Homo sapiens: one gene and its partners. The protein of the gene in region 2 interacts with the protein of the main gene of each other region in a pairwise test. Each region holds a gene or a part of one and is shown on either strand. Other genes may lie near its edges.

Region 1 (7,171 bases), on a different chromosome or scaffold from region 2:
CTGGGATCCTCAGCTGCCTTCCTGAAAAGAGAAGACATGAACATCTGCCTTACCGGAATGCAAGTGTGAGGACAAAACTAGTGCCTTGGAAACTTTAAAATACTATGCAAATGTAAGGCCTTGTTAGAGTTTAGAGATACCATAAAACATATCTATTACATGGCACGCTAAGGTTTGCCATGCTGGCCCATTCTACAATTTAGTGCTGAAATACCAACTCCAATGTGAATAACTGCTGAAAACACAGTTGCATTAGAGGCAAACACAAATATAACTAAATAAGAAAAAATAGCCCATAACAAGATGGTTGGATTTAAAATCAAAGCTTCCTCACAATCATGTAGCTTCAGATTTAAAACACTTGTAATTTTGCAGTTACATAAGCGTGTAATTAATGTTTTAAATGATAAAGCTCTGCATTCCGAATATCAGCCTGTGATTTAAGAGAAAAATGTTTCAGTCTGAAGTCATCTAAACTAACAGTAAGACAAGATTCTGAGCAGCACCTCCTCCTTCCTTCACATGTGAGAAATATACTTCTTATAAGAATTACTTCTATGAAAAGTAAGTTTATCAAGTTGAATACCTAAAAAACACTAAATGGCAACATTTCCCCAGTAAATATCTGTTTCAAGTAACTGGAAGCCATTAACACTGGTAAAAACACAGAATCCAAAAGAATTTTGGACGTTTTAGCAACACAATACTATGGCAACACGGCAGAGAAAATAATTCTGACTTTTAAAATAAGATAACGCACTGTACTTTCAGTTTAACTGTTCCTTAATTGAGTACAACCTAACTTTGATTCAGCTACTTTATTAGGAAAAATGCACTTGAGTCCACAGTCCAGAATATTTCCAATGCCACGGATCTCATGCAATGTATGAAGAAATTTCTTTCACAGAGATGACAGCCCAGCAGGCAATAAAAGATACATGTAAATCATCAGGCACAGGAGTACAAACTCAACTGCAGAACTGTTCAGAGGGCATAGAAATAAAACTTAATTTTTTTTCTTTTATTTAGGAATGCATGCCCATTCACTTTTTCACAAGCCCATTTTATTAAAGAAATAAAAATAAGCCTGCAATTAAAATAAAATGAGGGAGCTCCATAAGTCTATTTCTGTTCAACAATTCAAATATTCTTAAATTCTTGGAGACAGTAAAGAGTCTCTCCTCCACCATCGGTCAACCACACACACACTCTACTCTGAAGAACTGGTTGAAACAGGCAAAAACTGGAGGTCACTGTTTTAAAATATAGGTATCTATATACAAATAGAATATGTCTGCCTCATCTTTCACTTCCAACAATAAAAAAGCCAGGGCGAGCACTAAGAGCAGCAGATCCGATTCATCTAGGGAACCACAGACTGTCAGTGCACAGTAATTCCTGCAAAAGGTAACAGATCTGACCAGATCATGTTGCTGCCATTTCCCAGAGAAAAGACAGACCAGTGGCACCCACACCCATCTTCATCTGAAACACATATTCCAGGAAAAGTAGGAGACTGCTCCCAGGAAGGAAGGCTTAATTTACCGTGCATGCCAGCAGATGATTCAGGAAGCCACAGGAGGAAAAAGCCAGGGGAACACTGTCCCGGGTAGGCGTGCCTCCAGAAATCTCTGTATCCCTGACCCGCAGTACTTCCTAGGATCTTTCACACCCTGAGCTGGCTGGAGTCGTGTGAAAATGGCAAGGACTCCCTTCACCACTATTCCGAACCTCAAGCCAGCCACCAATGAGGGTCACCCAACCCAACGCCCTCCGGAACGGTGCTCTTTTGCCGGCCTCTTCTCCCCTACTGACTTCTCCAAGGGCCAGCCTGCAAGGCTTGGCATGGGCTGCCCATCCCCTGGGAGGGCTGACTGCCCCGCCAGGGCTGTTGGAGCCTGGACACAGGAGAGACAAAGGGCTGGGAGGGGGAACTGGGCTCCTCCCCTGGGACCACGGAGCTCCTCTCCTCTCAGGTGCTGGGGTCTGACCCCAACCCTCTTCCAAGGTCCCCAAACTTCGCTAACAATGCAAGCACCTGTTCCCTTCACCTCTTCTGCATTTGAGTCCCTCAAGTCCTTCCATTTTCCTCCAGCTTTTTCTCCAGTACCTTAGACAAACCAAACGCCCTACTTCCCCGAGTCCAACACGCTCCCCTTCCATGACATAATTCAACCTCGTTCCCAACGAAGCCCCCAGATGGTCGCTGTCCCCCACCCAGAAGTTTCCCCTGGGTGTGCCCGAGTCCCCAAAGATTTCCTTCAAGTCTCACCCATGCGCCCCAGCCTTCTCCTTCCAAGTCCCCAAAATTCACATCAGGGTCTTCCCCTAGGTGTCCCACAGCCTCCCAGGTCCCCGTGCAAACGACCCCGGGGGCCACCCGGGCCTCCGTCTCCGCCGCGTCCGCTGACAGCAGAGGGCACGGAGGGGCCCCCTGGGCCCCCGCGTTTCCACCCGGCCCCCAACCGCCGCCGGCCGGCAGTTAACGGCCGGCGCCTCACCTTGGTTCACCAGGCGCAGGGCGTGCGTGAAGGAGGGGTCCAGGGAGTCCTTCTCCGCCATCAGCTCGGGCAGGTACTTCTCCTCCATGCTCGCCGGCCGCCGGGCCCGGGATGTGGACTCCAGGCGCACGGGGGGCGGCGCCCGGCAACCCCCGACCCCGCCCGCGCCCCCAGCGGCGGGGACCCGGGGGCCAGACGCGGCAGCAGCGGCCAAGCCGGGCGGTCGGCCGGAAGGCGGCGGCGGCGGCACGGGGGCGGGAACCGACCGCTCAGCCCCGATCCCCGGTGGCCGCCGAGTACCCAGCGCCGGCGGCCCCCGCGCTCCGGGCGCGGGCCGAGGAGGAGCGGGCGCGGGCGGCGCGGTTAGGCGGGCCCTCGGGCCGAGCGGGCTGCGGCGCCCCTGAGGCAGTCCACGGCGATCCCCGCCAGTCCCGCCAGCACCTGCCAGCACCCGAGCCACAGCTGCGACCTGCACGCCGCGCGCCGCCCCGCGCACTCTGAGCCACCGCGCCGAGCGCCCAGCGCCTGCCGCCGGCCCCGCCCCGCCCGGCTCCGCCCCGCCCCGCCCCGCGCCCGCCGCCCCGCCCTGCCGCGCCGCGCCTGCGCACTGGCGCCCACCGCCCCGCCGCCCGCCGCCTCCTGGGGCCGCTCTCCACTGCGAGTCCGCCGGGACTAACCGGGCGTTTGCGAGAGGGGGTGCGTCCAAGGGCCCCTCCCGCGTGTCCGGCGCCCACCTTTGGCCCTGAGGGCCGAGTGGGGAGCCCCACGACGCTATTACAGCCTTTCAGATGCACGGACTGGGAAACTGGGGCTCAGAGAAGTCAAGTGGCTCGCCCAAGGTCACCCAGCGAGTGATCCTGGGAAGAGGGGACAAGGGCCGAGCTGGAGCTGGGAAGGGCGCCCCAGTTCGCCCCAGTCGCGCTCTGAGGAATAGCAGCGGGACCGCCCTGCTCTCTAAAGCTTCCTGGACTTCTCTAAGTTATGTCGCGTTGCTGTCCCCTCGTACTTATAAGAGAGTAAGGCAGGGGCGCCGTCCTTTCTCCGCGCCTGAGCTCAGAGCGCCAACCTCCTGAGATCCGCCAGCTCAGAGGTCGGTTACATAAAAGCGCGTGCCCTTCTGGGCGTCTTTGTCATCCCGACTTGCTCCTGGGTTGTCATTCTCTTAGGTCATAAACCGGCTGTGCCTGGACACAGCTGAGTGAGCCGCGTCTGAGCTCATCCGCTCCTGGGGAGAGGCCCTGGGACGCCCCGCCTGTCGGTGGCAATGCTCTCTGTCCCCTTCCGCCCACCCCCAACCCCCAGCAAATGCTCTCCAAGGCCATTTCAGATTTCCCGAGGCATGTGGAATAAACGTCCCCCAGGAAGGCGAAGGACTCCAGTCCTTGCCCTGCCATTTTTCCTGCCTTCAAACAGCCAGCTCAAGTCCCGGCCTCAATGTCACCTTCCCTGGACAGCCTCTCAGGACCTCCCTGGCAAAGCAAGTCACAAGTCCCTTCTCTGTGTCCCCCCAGCTTGGTCAGAGGTCATTCACAGACAGCTGTAATTCTGTTTTCAGTAGACCATGAGCATCAGGGACAGAGTTTGAGTTTTGTTTTTGAGGGGGAAGGTCACCAGTGTGTAGTACAGGGGGCAGGGATGGAGGGTACTGGAAATGTCTCTTGGAGGAATAAGTCAGTGGCATACCACTCTCAGCCAATAGCCTGAGGACAATCGCCACAGTCCCCCAGGCAGCCCCCCCGCACTCCCAATGCAAATGGAGGCAGCTTTACAAACCCGAGGGGAGTGGGAGGTGGTAGAAATCTTGGAAGCTCTAAGTCCCAGACCCGAGTACTCAACTGCCCTCACTCTCAAGGCTCCACTCCTCCCCCGGCTAAGGTGTCATTTCAGAGTCCCCAGTAAGAGTCTTCTTCATGGCTCTCTTCAGTCTCAACTTGCAAGAAGCAGAAAAATGGCACAGTTAAAAGCAAAGCCTCTGGGGTTAAACAGCCTGGATTTGGAATCATGGATCTGCTGCTCACTAGCTGTGACCTTGGGCAAGTTTCTTCACCTCAGGGTCCTCATCCGTCAAGTGGAGATGACAACCAAACTTATTTCATAAGAAGTTCATGAGAATAAATATGTTAACTCATAATGAAATACCCAAAACAGCACTCTGCCTATCGGAAATGCTGAGCTGATCTTTGCTTTGGGTTTTTTCCGGCTGCAAGGCTGTCCTCTGGGCCTTCTGAGCCTCCCTCGCCTTCCCTTCAGCTGTAACTCCAGGGATGCTGGGCAGACACCCATCTGTGGACTCCTCACTGCTGGTCGTGGTGCTTCGCCCCGGCCTGGCCAACTGAGTGAAGGACCTGTGACTGTCGCACCTCTGTTTCTGACCTGGGCCCAGCGTCAGGCTTGTAGGCTGCTTGTGGCTGCTCTTCTCAATCCCAGGTCTATGACTGGCCTCTCAGCCCCAGAAACAAAAAGGGCACTTCCCAAACCACCCTCACCCAGAAGGGCAGGAGTCTGGATGCCTGCATCCTGGCTGCTACCTGCCTCACTATGCCACTTTGTTAATTAACTTAGAGCCTGAGCTTCCCAGTCCACACCCCCAAAACCAGGGGTATGCCAGTAGTCCTGCTGGACAACAGGAGGGACTCATAGGACAATGTCTTTTCCTTTTACAACTGAAGGGAAGCATACACCTCTGGCTTATATTCCTGTGTCACAGAACTTACATTCTATGGTAGGGTTCCCTGACAGCTGCTTGTAAAGGGGGAAAGGGGGACAGAGAATGTTTGGGATGAGGCTAGAAGAGGACAATGGGGCCTGGATGCCCAGCGGCTTCATTGGAACACTTAGACTCTCTCTCTTCTAACAGCTCTTCTCCCTCTGTGTCTTCCATTCAGACCATCTGCCCCGGTGACAGTCCAGACCTTGAGTAATCACTATTTTTATTAAGTGCCAGCCCTATGTTTATGACTTAGGATTCACTATGGTTCTCGCAACACCCTGTAAGGAAAATTCTATTGATCACCACTTACAAAGAAGGAAACTGAGGCCCGGGACAGTTTAATACCACCTTGCTTAAGGCTCCACAGCTGTCGGCGGGGATCCCAGGCCCACCTGACTCTCTGACCCTTCTTTCTCTCCCTTCCTGGTTCTGCCTTCCCAGGTAGCAATCTGGAACACTCCTGACTGGCTCTTCATCCCTCCCTGATCTGAGTTGGCAGTCAGTCCACCAGCAGCTGTGGAGGAGGGCTATGCACTGGGAAACTGACAGCAAGGGCACTGAATCTTCTGCTCCAGACCCTCCTTCTCCGAGAACCTTCCAAGAAGGCAGGTGCCAAACGCTGTGAGTGCTCATGCAGGGTCCTCCGGGGAGGAGGGAGATGAATGTCTCTGTGAGATGCTCAGGAAATTGTCCCCACCCACCAACCTGGCTGAGCCGTTGGCTGTGGGGCACCTCCATGCTGTGCTGCACACTCCGCTCATCTTCATGAGATCACCTTCCTGCAGGCGCTAACCCTCTGATTCTTTTGAAAAGGAGAAATCAGGTCTTGGGAAAGCCGGTGATTTTCCTACAAGCAGCTGCAGGTAGTATTCACACTCAGGTCTTTTGGCTTCCAGGCCAAAAGAGGTCTCTCTAGAATACACCAGTACTCACTGAGCACATACTATGTGCAGAGACTGCTCTGGGTACAGGGGACATAGCCATGGACAGAACAGACTTCTCCAAAGGCCCTTAAGGCCAGGGCACTGGGGCTGCTTACTCCATCTGCAGAGTTTGTGGTTAGACTGACCAGGCGCTCAGGTCTGGACGGGAAGCCCCGCACTGCAATAAGGAACTGTGGCTGCTCTTTCTTCTCACATCCAGGTCTGGGACTAGCTTCTCAGCCCCAGAGACAAAAGGGTACTTCCCAAACCCACCCCACTCAGTGACACTGGGCCATCTCTGAGAACACAGCAAGTCCCTGTGGCCCCAGCCCACTGCCATAGCGCTGTCTGCCAGAATCCACACCTGCCTCCTCTTCACCCACCTACTGACTCCTGGAGAGAGAAAGACAAGTCCTTGGCCTTTATGACACTAACTGCAATAAGTCAGACACAGCTGCAGCAAACTCAGTGTCATCAGAGGAGACACAAAATGTAGGGAGTGTGTCTATGAGGAAGTTTTCATATTTGCTGCTCACACTACAAGCTTCTCACTGCTGTTCACACCACAAGCTTCCTCTTCATTTTGTTTAAGAAAGGTGGATCCTATCCCAGTTACTCCAAAACTCTGCAGTGCCATACTGTGAAATCCTAATCCGACTGTACCAAAGGCCAGAGAGACCTCGGCTTGGCCCCAGCTGCCTTGCTTACTATCCTCCTCACAGGATCATTTTGAGGTTGAAATTGAAGCATTAAGCTCACATAGGCACCATGTGCATTTTAAAGCTTTTCCACTCTCTGTCCTCTCCACCAGCATTGTTTGTGCTCCTGTTCACACTTAACACATCTGGTCCTCGTCATCTGTGGACCCCTTTGCCTTCACACTGTCCTCAGAGCCTGCTCAGCTGCCCAGCCCCAGTGCCTGGTCCAGAGGTCAGTTCACAGCAAGCACTCAGCATTCATTCTGGATCCGTGTCTCCCAAAATGCAGTCCCGGAACAGCAATGCTACCCAGCCATCTGAGGCCAATTCATTTGTCAT
Region 2 (5,176 bases):
GCTGCGGGGTGGGGATGGGAGGAACCGGGAAAGGAGGCCTGTTGACTGGGGAGGTGGGAAGGGGCTGTGGAGAGCAGGCTCATCTGATGAGGATGAGGGGTTGATACTGAGGTGCCATGTAAGTTCTCACTTCATTTCTCCCACAAATCCTCCAGTGCCATGCCCCTTGCTCACAGATGCTCTGATGTGAACAGGTTTTATAGTGGAAAAGGTCCCAGGCCAGAACTGAGGCTGTCTTTGAGGACAACGTATGATGAACACAGTACTGTTTCCTCTTCCTTTTTTTCACTTGAGGTGAAATTCACTTAACATAAAATTAACCATTTCAAAATGAACAGTTTGCTAGGCTGGGCACAGTGGCTTATGCCCATAATCCCAGCACTTTGGGAGGCCAAAGTGAGAGGACTGCTTGAAGCGAAGAGTTCAAGACCAGCCTGGGCAATATAGTGAGACTCCCCATCTCTACAGAATAAAACAAAACTAAAAAATTAGCCAGGCCTGGAGGCATTGCTACTCCCAGCAATGTCCAGCTACTCCTAGCTACTCCCAGCTACTCCCAAGTAGTCTCAGCTACTTGGGAGGCTGAGGGGAAGGACTGCTTGAGCCCAAGAGGTTGAGGCAGCAGTGAGCCATGACCGCACCACTGCACTCCAGCCTGGGTGACAGAGCGAGACTCTGTCTCTAAAACAAAACAAGACAAAACAATTTGGTGCCATTCAGTAAATTTGCAATGTTACATGTCTCTATCTAGTTCAGAAACATTTGTATCACCCCAAAGAAAGACCCAGAGCCATTAAGCAGCCATGCTCCCATGTCTTCTCCCCTGGACATGTGTCTTCCCTGCTCTGTCCCTGGCTCTAGGCCCAGTGACCTGGGGAAGAACGCAGGGGACACGCTGCCTCAGGAGGACCTGCCGCTGACGAAGCCCGAGATGTTTGAGAACCCCCTGTATGGGTCCCTGAGTTCCTTCCCTAAGCCTGCTCCCAGGAAGGACCAGGAATCCCCCAAAATGCCGCGGAAGGAACCCCCGCCCTGCCCGGAACCCGGCATCTTGTCGCCCAGCATCGTGCTCACCAAAGCCCAGGAGGCTGATCGCGGCGAGGGGCCCGGCAAGCAGGTGCCCGCGCCCCGGCTGCGCTCCTTCACGTGCTCATCCTCTGCCGAGGGCAGGGCGGCCGGCGGGGACAAGAGCCAAGGGAAGCCCAAGACCCCGGTCAGCTCCCAGGCCCCGGTGCCGGCCAAGAGGCCCATCAAGCCTTCCAGATCGGAAATCAACCAGCAGACCCCGCCCACCCCGACGCCGCGGCCGCCGCTGCCAGTCAAGAGCCCGGCGGTGCTGCACCTCCAGCACTCCAAGGGCCGCGACTACCGCGACAACACCGAGCTCCCGCATCACGGCAAGCACCGGCCGGAGGAGGGGCCACCAGGGCCTCTAGGCAGGACTGCCATGCAGGTGCGCTGCGCCACACGTGGGTTCGTGTGCATTTGTGTGTGTGTGCATGCGTGAGTGCGTATGTGTGTACCTATGCATATGTGTGTGCATGTGTGTGTGCACGCATGCATATGTGCGTGCATGTGTGAACGCATGCATGTGCACACATGCGAGTGATGGTCCTGGGAACTGCTCCATGAGAAGGGAGAGTCAGGATTTGAACCCAGGTCTGCCTGTCCCACACATCCCTGACCCTGCATTGCCTCTGCAGCAGTTGTTAAAAGGAAGAAAGGCGGGGCTGTGGATAAACTTAGTCTAGTGTCAGTCCCAGAGGAAGAAGATTCCATAAAGAAAAGGAGCCTAAATCATTTATATCTCATTGTTATTATAAATTTGTTTTGCAACTGAGTTTCGCCAGGCACAGTGGATCACGAGGTCAGGAGATCGAGACCATCCTGGCCAACATGGTGAAACCCCGTCTCTACTAAAATACAAAAAATTACCCGGGCATGGTGGCGCACGCCTGTAGTCCCAGCTGCTTGGGAGGCTGAGGCAGGGGAATCGCTTGAACCTGGGAGGCAGAGGTTGTGGTGAGCCGAGATTGCGCCACTGCACTCCAGCCTGGTGACAAAGCAAGACTCCGTCTCAAAAAAAAAAAAAAAAAAAAATTAAAAAACAACAACAACGGAGTTTCACTCTTTGTTGCCCAGGCTAGAGTCCAGTGGTGTGATCTCGGCTCACTGCAACCTGCGCCTCCTGGGTTCAAGCGATTCTCCTGTCTCAGCCTCCCGAGTGGCTGGGATTACAGGCACCTGCCACCATGCCTGGCTAATTTTTGTATTTTTAGTAGAGATGGGATTTCACCATGTTGGCCAGGCTGGTCTCGAACTCCTGACCTCAGGTGATCTGCCTGCCTGGGCCTCCCAAAGTTCTGGGATTACAGGCATGAGCCACTGCACCCAGCCTCATTGTTATTATTAAGTCGCATTCATACTTGAAAATTTCCCAATATTTTGGAGAATTCAGCACACTTTCCCTCTCCTTCATGTAAAATAAAAAATTTTTTGAGCAAAACTAACAGTGATTAAGAACAGACTCCAGGCCGGGCGTGGTGGCTCATGACTGTAATCCCAGCATTTTGGGAGGCCGAGGTGGATGGATCACCTGAGGTCAGGAGTTCAAGACCAGCCTAACCAATATGGTGAAACCCTGTCTCTATTAAAAATACAAAAATTAGCTGGGCATTGTGGTGTGCACCTGTAATCCCAACTACTCGGGAGGCTGAGACAGGAGAATTGCTTGAACCCAGGAGGCGGAGGTTGCAGTGAACCGAGATCGCAACACTGCACTCCAGCCTGGGCGACAGAGTGAGACTCCATCTCAAAAAAGAGAACAGTCAGGCTATGTTGGATTTGAATCCCAGCCCTCCCACCTCCTGGCTCTGTGCCTTGAGCCTCAGTTTACCCATCTGTAAAAAGGGGCTGTTAATAGTACCTACCTCATAGACTTAGAAGGAGAATTGCATTGTAGGCTATTATGTATTATTACCATGTATTATCATCTATATAGAAATTATATATTTATATTTATGTATTTACATTGATATCCATTACATATCATTTCATATATATATACTATACATATTACATATGTGTATATATTTTATATATATATATGGTACGTACCTGGGTGTGGTGCCATGCACCTGTAGTCCCAGCTACTGGGGAGGCTGAGGCATGAGGCTAGCTGGAACCCAAGAATTCAAGGCTGCAGTGAGCTATGATTGCACCACTGCACTCCAGACTAGGCAACAGAGTAAGACCCCATTTCTAAAAAACAATTTTTTTAAATAAGCAGGTAAAGTACTTAGAGCAGTGAGTGCTGGCTCTTCTCAGCTACACGTTAAAGGAAGCCTGGCCTAGCCCACAGCATGCAGGGACCTGGGCCACTTAGTTCAACATGGCCTGGTGAGAATGAGCCCTGACAGCCCTTCTGTTCTTGTCCCACAGTGAAGCCCTCAGTGAGCTGCCACTGAGTCGGGAGCCCAGAGGAACGGCGTGAAGCCACTGGACCCTCTCCCGGGACCTCCTGCTGGCTCCTCCTGCCCAGCTTCCTATGCAAGGCTTTGTGTTTTCAGGAAAGGGCCTAGCTTCTGTGTGGCCCACAGAGTTCACTGCCTGTGAGACTTAGCACCAAGTGCTGAGGCTGGAAGAAAAACGCACACCAGACGGGCAACAAACAGTCTGGGTCCCCAGCTCGCTCTTGGTACTTGGGACCCCAGTGCCTCGTTGAGGGCGCCATTCTGAAGAAAGGAACTGCAGCGCCGATTTGAGGGTGGAGATATAGATAATAATAATATTAATAATAATAATGGCCACATGGATCGAACACTCATGATGTGCCAAGTGCTGTGCTAAGTGCTTTACGAACATTCGTCATATCAGGATGACCTCGAGAGCTGAGGCTCTAGCCACCTAAAACCACGTGCCCAAACCCACCAGTTTAAAACGGTGTGTGTTCGGAGGGGTGAAAGCATTAAGAAGCCCAGTGCCCTCCTGGAGTGAGACAAGGGCTCGGCCTTAAGGAGCTGAAGAGTCTGGGTAGCTTGTTTAGGGTACAAGAAGCCTGTTCTGTCCAGCTTCAGTGACACAAGCTGCTTTAGCTAAAGTCCCGCGGGTTCCGGCATGGCTAGGCTGAGAGCAGGGATCTACCTGGCTTCTCAGTTCTTTGGTTGGAAGGAGCAGGAAATCAGCTCCTATTCTCCAGTGGAGAGATCTGGCCTCAGCTTGGGCTAGAGATGCCAAGGCCTGTGCCAGGTTCCCTGTGCCCTCCTCGAGGTGGGCAGCCATCACCAGCCACAGTTAAGCCAAGCCCCCCAACATGTATTCCATCGTGCTGGTAGAAGAGTCTTTGCTGTTGCTCCCGAAAGCCGTGCTCTCCAGCCTGGCTGCCAGGGAGGGTGGGCCTCTTGGTTCCAGGCTCTTGAAATAGTGCAGCCTTTTCTTCCTATCTCTGTGGCTTTCAGCTCTGCTTCCTTGGTTATTAGGAGAATAGATGGGTGATGTCTTTCCTTATGTTGCTTTTTCAACATAGCAGAATTAATGTAGGGAGCTAAATCCAGTGGTGTGTGTGAATGCAGAAGGGAATGCACCCCACATTCCCATGATGGAAGTCTGCGTAACCAATAAATTGTGCCTTTCTCACTCAGCTGTGTGTGTGGCGTTTTTCCTGACATTCGGAGCCATAGATATCCTTCTAGATGGCAGGGCCTGCACAGGGCACAACTGAGGCAGTTAAGGGTTCATGGTGGTGATGGATGGTGTTGCCCTGACCAGATGGGACACCATAGAGCCAGTTTGAAGCTGGTCCTGGACTAGGAACAGGAGTAAACCGCACCCCTTCCTTCCTTCCACCCACACATCTTCCTGGCACTCCAAGCACCCTGCGGCCACCCAGAGGCCACGAGCATCCCCTCCAAACCTGCTGTCCTGCAGCCCACAAGTTCCTCCCAGCTTTTATAAGTTTTCACCACTTAAGCTGCAGTGACAAAAAAAACACGTCAACACTCCCCAGGTCATGGGTTCCCAGGTCAGGGAGTAGACCCCCGCCCAGAGGCACAGTGCGGGCCACTTCCACGGCGCCTCTGCCCCACCTTGGGCTGCCTGGCCTCTGCTTCTGCTCACAGACACCAGGCCTGGGCTCCAGGCAGGGCCTGGAGCCGTGTCTTTGGCAGCCTCCAAGCAA
Region 3 (7,000 bases), on a different chromosome or scaffold from region 2:
AAGCTTTCAAAGGGAGAAAATTACTTCACCGAAGATTACAGTCCAGCCCTCCTCTGGAGCTGGGAGGTACTTATTTTGACTTGCATGTGATTCTAAGACAGCCCATTTTTTGGCAGTGAGCTGTGTGAGGCCCAAACCAGGGCCATTCTGATTATGGGGTGGGGCAAGCCAGAGAGCTAAGCAGCAGGCTTTTTTCTTTTTTTCCCTTCCAAAGCTGTTGTGACACATATTGAAAATTAATTATCTGAAGACAAAGTACAAAGCAAAACCTCCCAACCAATGGTCTTATACATGAAAGCTAAATGTATAAAATCCAAGAGAGTGGGGAGCGTGCATTAATTGGATATATGTGATGATGATAATGATGATGATAATGATGATGGTGATGGTGATGATGAGGGTAGCTAGCATCTATTAGGTGCTTTCTATGTGCTATACACAGTGCTAAGAGCTTCACATATATCACTTTATTTAGTTCACATAATAACCCTATGAGGTGGACACTATTTTTATCCTTATTTTTCAAATGAAGAAAATAAGATAGAGAATAATTATAAAATCACAGCAGTGTCACATAGCCAGGAAGTGGTGGAGCCAGATGCTGAACTCAAACAATGTTGTTCCAGAACCTAGATATTTTTTTTAAGCTGAATTTTAAGCTGATTACTCAGTGTCTGTCTCTGCGCTAGATACTCAACATAAACTATCTCAGTTACCATTATGGAGAATATAAGCCCCTTCTAGCAGATGAAGAAACCAAGACTCAAATTTTGGTTCTTGCCCAAGATTTCCCACTATTAAGTAGCTGAGTTAGGATTTAAACTCAAGTCCAAATCCTGAGTTCTTCCCACACTACTATGCTATGTCCATTTACAGCTCAGCTGTGGCTTGGGGTACTGGACAGAGCATTAAATGTGGAACAGACCAAAGCCCCATGAAACAGTTTGGCTTGTAGGATTGTCTCAAGCTGAACAGGTTCATAAAGATGAGGGTTTAATACATTGATCTGCAAATGGTGTAAGTCATCTTTGTTTTCTAGAAGAACTTCAATTTTAGGATGATGTTTGCTGTTATCCTGATGAATGGCTCTTGTCACCTCTAGTTTATTCACCAAATTTTTCAAGGCAAGGTTGAGCACGTGAAATACAACTTAGGCGGGGGGTAAAATACCTCGTGGGGAATCATCCCAAGGAGTCTGCCTATAGTCCCCAACTTTTCTTTTTCCTGAAACATTGACTTTGCTTTCAATATATCAACTCCCGAAGTAGCTTTGCAAGAGTGAACTTCTAAGTGAATCGTAGGTGGTTTTGCATGGCATGACATATTATTATGTGCTATTGCACTGATACAAAATGTGGCAACCTACACAGTGTGTTAGGTTCTTTAATAAAAATACCTGTTAACAAAATACACTTTCAAAATACCATATTAGCTTTCAGTAACTGTCTAACTTACGTGTGGGCTAAGACTAATTCTGAGGTAGCCTCAGAATCCATTTATGAGGTAGCCTCCGAATCCATTTATGAGTGGAGAAAACTGTTTACCATTTTAATGGTTTTGACCATGCTGTTCAGAACTTAAAAAAGGAGCCTTTTGGGAATGGCCTTGCAGTCCTGTGTGTTTATAGAAAACTAAGAAGGTATCTGAAAATTGAACACGTTTGTCAAGAAGTGACCTTAGAAATCATGTCTGGGTAACAAGGTGTACTTCTGTCTCCTAAGAAGGTTTGCTTCATCAGCTCCTCTTTCTTTCGATCAAATCAGATGTATTGAAATTCAAGTGCCAAAAGCCACTTCTAGTAAATGTAAGTACATCTCTCTCAAAGTAGCTGCTGATGGAATCTGAAGTGATTTGGTGGCAATCCACATGCTGCAGCACAGGTGCAAACAGCACAGCCTCAGAAGTGAGTGCTACACATCTCTGGGCTTTGAATTTCACATCAGAAAGGATGCAGGGTGCAGGGTCCTTTCTGGCTAGACGAAAAGGGCTTCCTCTGATCTTACATCTCGATCAATCTTATTTCAAGCACTGCTTGTTTTTGCTTCTTAGTCTGGCTTCTCTGTGTGTTTGATTGGTGACCTCTTTAGATCTGCAGACTGTAGGCAAATGCAGTGACATTTTGCTTAAAAGATTAAAGCATCTGGACCATGGCTCACTGAGAAATTATCAGGGTGGGCAGAATGTGTCCATCTCAAAATGTTGATGCTTCCAGAAACTAAATGCATGCTAAGTAGCATGGACCATGCCTCATTCTATCACCACCAACCACGCAGAACATATTATTAATAAAATAATATGATCAGTTCCCACTTCTCACCCCTACCCCTACCTCCCAGGATATGTCAAAGGTCATGCATCCATGAGAAAAGGCAAAGTAGAACGTAGACACCAGGCAAAGGGACATGGTGCAGACACTGGTGATATAGCTCAGGCAAGAAGAAATAGTGCAAACATCAGGAATACAGTTCAGGGAAGGAGCGATGGTGCAAACATCAGCAATACAGCTCAGGCAAGGAGACATGGTGCAAACATTGAGGATGTGGCTTCAGAAGTGAAGAACAACCAAAAGGGAAAGCAGATAGCTTAAGGGTAAAGGAGATAAAAAGGACAGATACCTACCCAGACCTGCGCTATCTAGCTACCGGCCTGTGGACTTATATTATCACCACTGGGCTCCCCACTGGGCTCACCAAATGGATCACTGTTGGATGAGGCCTGTGATCCATCAGGCTAGAACACAAGAAGATAATACTTTTTTTTTTCTCTCTTTTCAAGCATTGAAAATATAAGACACCTGGATATACTTTCATGCAGCACAATCAGTTATTGTAAAGGAGGGTGCAACGGCATTTAGAGGATGCTACACCACAAATGTGGACTTGTAGTAACAATTTAATAAAAAGGCAGTCCTTTTCAGCTGACTCATTTGAACACAAAAGAAAGCCCCTTTAGCAACCCCTTGAGAACTTATGAGATTGAGCCAGCATTCTTTTCTATGTAGGCTTCCTCATGCATTATCCATTTCAGTTACAGAGGTCTTAATTTTAAGGAAAAACACAAACAAATAACAAACTGGTCACTTACAGCTTCTTGCTCTTCGCTTTTGCTGGGACTTTCAAAGCCCTCTTCAAAGATGTCATCTGTGGTAGGATCACTGGCATGGGATGCAGATGATTTGGATGGAGAGCTCTGTCTAGGGGCTGGGGTTGGAGCTACACAGAGACCACAGAAAAAGAGACATCTTAAGTGCCTGGCTGCCATGAATGTATCCCAAAGAAACCTCAGGAATCTGCTTATATTGAAGTCAAATCTTAGGATTCCTCTTCCTATTTCCAGTGGAATCAGTTGAATATTTGAATTCTCTCTCTGTACGTATTGATCTTTCCTCTCACACATCTGACTTCAGGAAGGAGCTCGTCCACACTGATAGGTAAGGCAGTGGTTCTCAAAGGATGGTCCTTGGACAAGCAGCAGCAGTAGCATCTGGGAATTTGTTAGAAATGAAATTTTCTGACCCTACCCCAGATCTACTGAATCACAGACTCTGTGTTTGAACAACCTGCTACAGGTTATTCTGATGCATGATCAAGCTGAGAACTACTGGGCTATGGTTTGCTTTCTTCTTTCTGTGTTTCATCAGAGGGCACGTTATTGAGCGCCTTTCATGTGTCAAACACTGTTAGAAACTTTACAGACAATATCTCTAATCCTCATAAAACATCTTTGAGGTAGAGGTTATCCTAATTTGACAGGTAAGGAAAGTGAAGTTTGCTAATTTGCTCATGGCAACTGGTAGAACCAGATTCTGAATCCTGGCACATAGGAGGTATTCAATAAACACATGTTGAATAAAGAGAAAGTGTCTCAGTGATCTGGGAAAATGGATGTAGCTGATGGCAACTTCACAGCTGGTACTTGATTCTATAAGGACAAAGGATACGCATTTTCTGGGCTGACCCACCCACATCTCCTCTCATTTGTTTTAGAGGTTTAGAACAAATATGCCATTTGATACCACTCTTCTTTTAATAAATTCTAATTTGTCACTGAAAATACTGGTTACTGGCTAAGACCCAAGTGAGAGGGTGGCATGACTTCATTTAGCAGCTGAATTTTCCTAATGTTATAGAACTTAGAAATCAGACAGTGAATGATTGTAAAACTTAGTGCATACTTTTTACTCTGATGAATCTATATATAGAAAGATGATGCTATTTCCTAACTTATTATTTATAATGTGCCAATGAGTTGGACACTGTGCTAGGCACTTCCCATTCATTATACACCTTAATATAAATACCTGCAAGTTGTTATCATAACTTTTTTGTTTCCCAGATGGAGAAATTGCAGCTCAGGGAGGTGAGGTGTCTTGCGAAGGGTTAACACAGCTATGAAATAGCAGCACTGGCATTTAACAGAGCTCTGTCTGACACTATCCAGTCCAACTGTGCTTTTCTGTTTCTATTTGAGGTTCACTTTTGATCCAACCAATCCTCTTCCCAAAACATTCTTAAGGGGATACTGATGGGTCAGAGGATATAAAGACTGGTTCTAATTTTGTTCAAAATAAAACAGCAAGTTTTTGGAAAAAAATTTGCAATGAAATCTGTTTTGTTTCAGGAGATGACTATGGAACAAACTGTATTGAAAGTGGGTTTAAAGCTATATGCAAACACCCTGAAGGGTAGTAGATGTTTAATAAATATTAGCTTAATTAGATCCTGAATTGTATTTGAAGTGGATTTTTGCTTACTAAAGGTTGAGAACACAAGCTGAGTTGCCAGTTCTGGCAGGTATACTGCTCAGACTTACCTAATGAAATCAATGGAAAGCATAAGCAGGAGTTTATTTATGCAGGTGTCTTAATCTTTAGAAGGCTTTATAGGATGCTGCTAATACTCTAAAGCAGTGGTTCTCAGTCTGGGGCAATTTCATCCCTGGGGTACATTTGGCAATGCTTGGAGTCATTTTTCTCGACACTAGAGGAAGGGGATATACGTTTCTCTCATAGAGTGATTAGAGGCCAGCGTTGCTGCTAAACATCCTACAATGGGACAGCCTCTGAAACAAAGAATTATCTGGCCCAACATGTCCATAGTGCCGAGGTTGCCAACGATGCTCTAAAACATAACAGTAGCTAAGTCATCTCCATTTTGTTTATTTCATTCTCTATAACCTTTCCCAAATGCCTCTCATGTCCCAGGCACTAAGCTAGCATTATGAGAAGTGTAGGAATGATGGAGCCAGTTCCTGCCCTCAAAGAACTTAAACTCTCCTCTTTCATTTGTAGCTGGCACACAAGTCCATTGAAAGAGAGATGTTTGTTTTTAAAAAGATGCTTGCTTATTTATGCATGGCTGTCATTTCTTTAACATTTCATTTTTTATTCATTATTCCTCATTGAAACCCTGTGAGTCTGCATAAATAGAGATGCTGCCACTATGTAGATCATATGGCCTGAGTGCAAGTGGGTTGTTTATACACGTTAAGGGCATTCATTTTCAGAATAGCATTCTGAACCTGGCTGAAATGGCACAATCTAATTGTATTAACATTAGGGGTGTTTTTTTTTGACAGTTCACAGTATTGGCCATGCAGTGATCCATATCACCTGTGACAGTAATGAAACCGCCAAACTCACTGCAGCATGAGCCTTTTCTTTCCTCTTATCAGGTGTCAAGGCACAGGCTGAGTCATCAGAACACCTTCCCTGAATTGTGTCAAACAAGTGTACATGTGCTCAAGTGTATCTGGATTCTGATTTGGCTGCACAGTCACTGTTTTCCAGATGTTTGCAGAAGAAATATGAGCTGGAGGAGACTCACTGAAAGCTGGAACTAGAAGGATGCACACTGCTCATCCAAGCCAATTCACTTATTTTACCAATGATAAAACTGAGTCTCAGAGAAGTCATACGCTTGCCCAAAGACACAGCTTGTGGTGGAGGAGTCAACACCAGAACTCTGGTCCAGGACTGCAAAAAAACACTTAACATGTGCTAATAATGAGGATAAAAGATACTTCAAATTCTGGGAGTTCTATAATGTTTGAGCACATATACCATTGAATCCTTTTAATAACCCATCGCTTACACAGATGAGGAAACCAAGGCTCATAGAAATAAAGTGCTTTGCCAAAAGGCACAAAACTGGTCAGTAATAAATCTGATCTCCAGGTTCCCAGTCCAGAACTTTCTGCAGCACTATCTTTTTGTTCCCTTTAACTACCAGAAGCTTTAACCCAAAATGAGGCTTCAACTATAAAAGCTATTTAAGACCTTATGGCTGCGTATCTCTGCCCTAAGTTTTCTCTTGATCCTTATTTTATATTCTAATGTTTAAAACTTGTTCCCCAAATTTTTAAAGTTTGCATTCATTTTATTTCAATAAGCCACGCCAAAATCTGTGTGTCATAAGCTATCTATACGTAAATAAATGAACGAATGAATGAGCAAACAAACAAAATCTTAAGAGGCAGAGTAACATGGTGGAAAAATACCAGGCTTACATTCAATTCAATACCACTTTGTCTATTGTCTTCATCTTTGAGCCTCACTTTCATTATCTGTCAAACAGGTCTAACAAAATTTATCATTAAGCATTATTATAAGTCTAAAAATAAACATGGAACATATGAAGAAGGTTTGTATGTTATCAGTGGTATCTAAATTGGCAGCTCATAGTAGTATTACTAGTAATAATAATATAAACAAAGAAGCCTGATTAATGCAAGTGAGATGAGTTATTTGACTCCAGAAACCCCGCCTCCAGACATGAGTTACGGCTCTCATTGGGTTTTATGTCTTAAGTGAGGGGCACTCACGTGAGTTGGTCGATGGTGTGGTAGAAGTCACAGGGGTCAAATTCAACTGGGAGATGTCAAAGTCATCACAGTCGTCTGTATCCTGTGCCACCCCGACTTTGTTGAAGTAACTGGAGAAGGCCTCTGAGGTACAGGTGAGGGAGGGCTGGTCGGGTTTGCGGGAGGGCACGGGCGGAGG

What was found. The genes of interacting proteins can lie anywhere in the genome.
Region 1: the proteins of INPP5D (region 2) and KHDRBS3 interact in binary tests that used the Homo sapiens proteins (3 or more experiments, as listed by UniProt).
Region 3: the proteins of INPP5D (region 2) and DAB1 interact in a two-hybrid assay, tested with the Homo sapiens proteins (one study listed by BioGRID).

What each region holds. Positions count from the first base shown.
Region 1 is NC_000008.11:135,453,285-135,460,455, reverse strand, and holds the start of KHDRBS3 (KH domain-containing, RNA-binding, signal transduction-associated protein 3), read right to left. Parts: upstream 3,001-7,171; 5' UTR 2,590-3,000; coding exon 2,502-2,589; exon of another isoform or gene 2,481-2,501; intron 2,424-2,480; exon of another isoform or gene 2,277-2,423; coding exon of another isoform or gene 2,273-2,276; intron 1,913-2,272; exon of another isoform or gene 1,553-1,912; coding exon of another isoform or gene 1,546-1,552; intron 1-1,545. UniProt on the Homo sapiens protein: RNA-binding protein that plays a role in the regulation of alternative splicing and influences mRNA splice site selection and exon inclusion. Binds preferentially to the 5'-[AU]UAAA-3' motif in vitro.
Region 2 is NC_000002.12:233,203,265-233,208,440, forward strand, and holds the end of INPP5D (phosphatidylinositol 3,4,5-trisphosphate 5-phosphatase 1), read left to right. Parts: intron 1-861; coding exon 862-1,453; intron 1,454-3,441; coding exon 3,442-3,444; coding exon of another isoform or gene 3,445-3,493; 3' UTR 3,494-4,639; downstream 4,640-5,176. UniProt on the Homo sapiens protein: Phosphatidylinositol (PtdIns) phosphatase that specifically hydrolyzes the 5-phosphate of phosphatidylinositol-3,4,5-trisphosphate (PtdIns(3,4,5)P3) to produce PtdIns(3,4)P2, thereby negatively regulating the PI3K (phosphoinositide 3-kinase) pathways.
Region 3 is NC_000001.11:57,008,061-57,015,060, forward strand, and holds part of DAB1 (disabled homolog 1), read right to left. Parts: coding exon 6,823-7,000; intron 6,638-6,822; exon of another isoform or gene 3,213-6,637; coding exon 3,085-3,212; exon of another isoform or gene 2,731-3,084; coding exon 2,635-2,730; 3' UTR 2,620-2,634; exon of another isoform or gene 1-2,619. UniProt on the Homo sapiens protein: Signaling adapter of the reelin-mediated signaling pathway, which regulates the migration and differentiation of postmitotic neurons during brain development.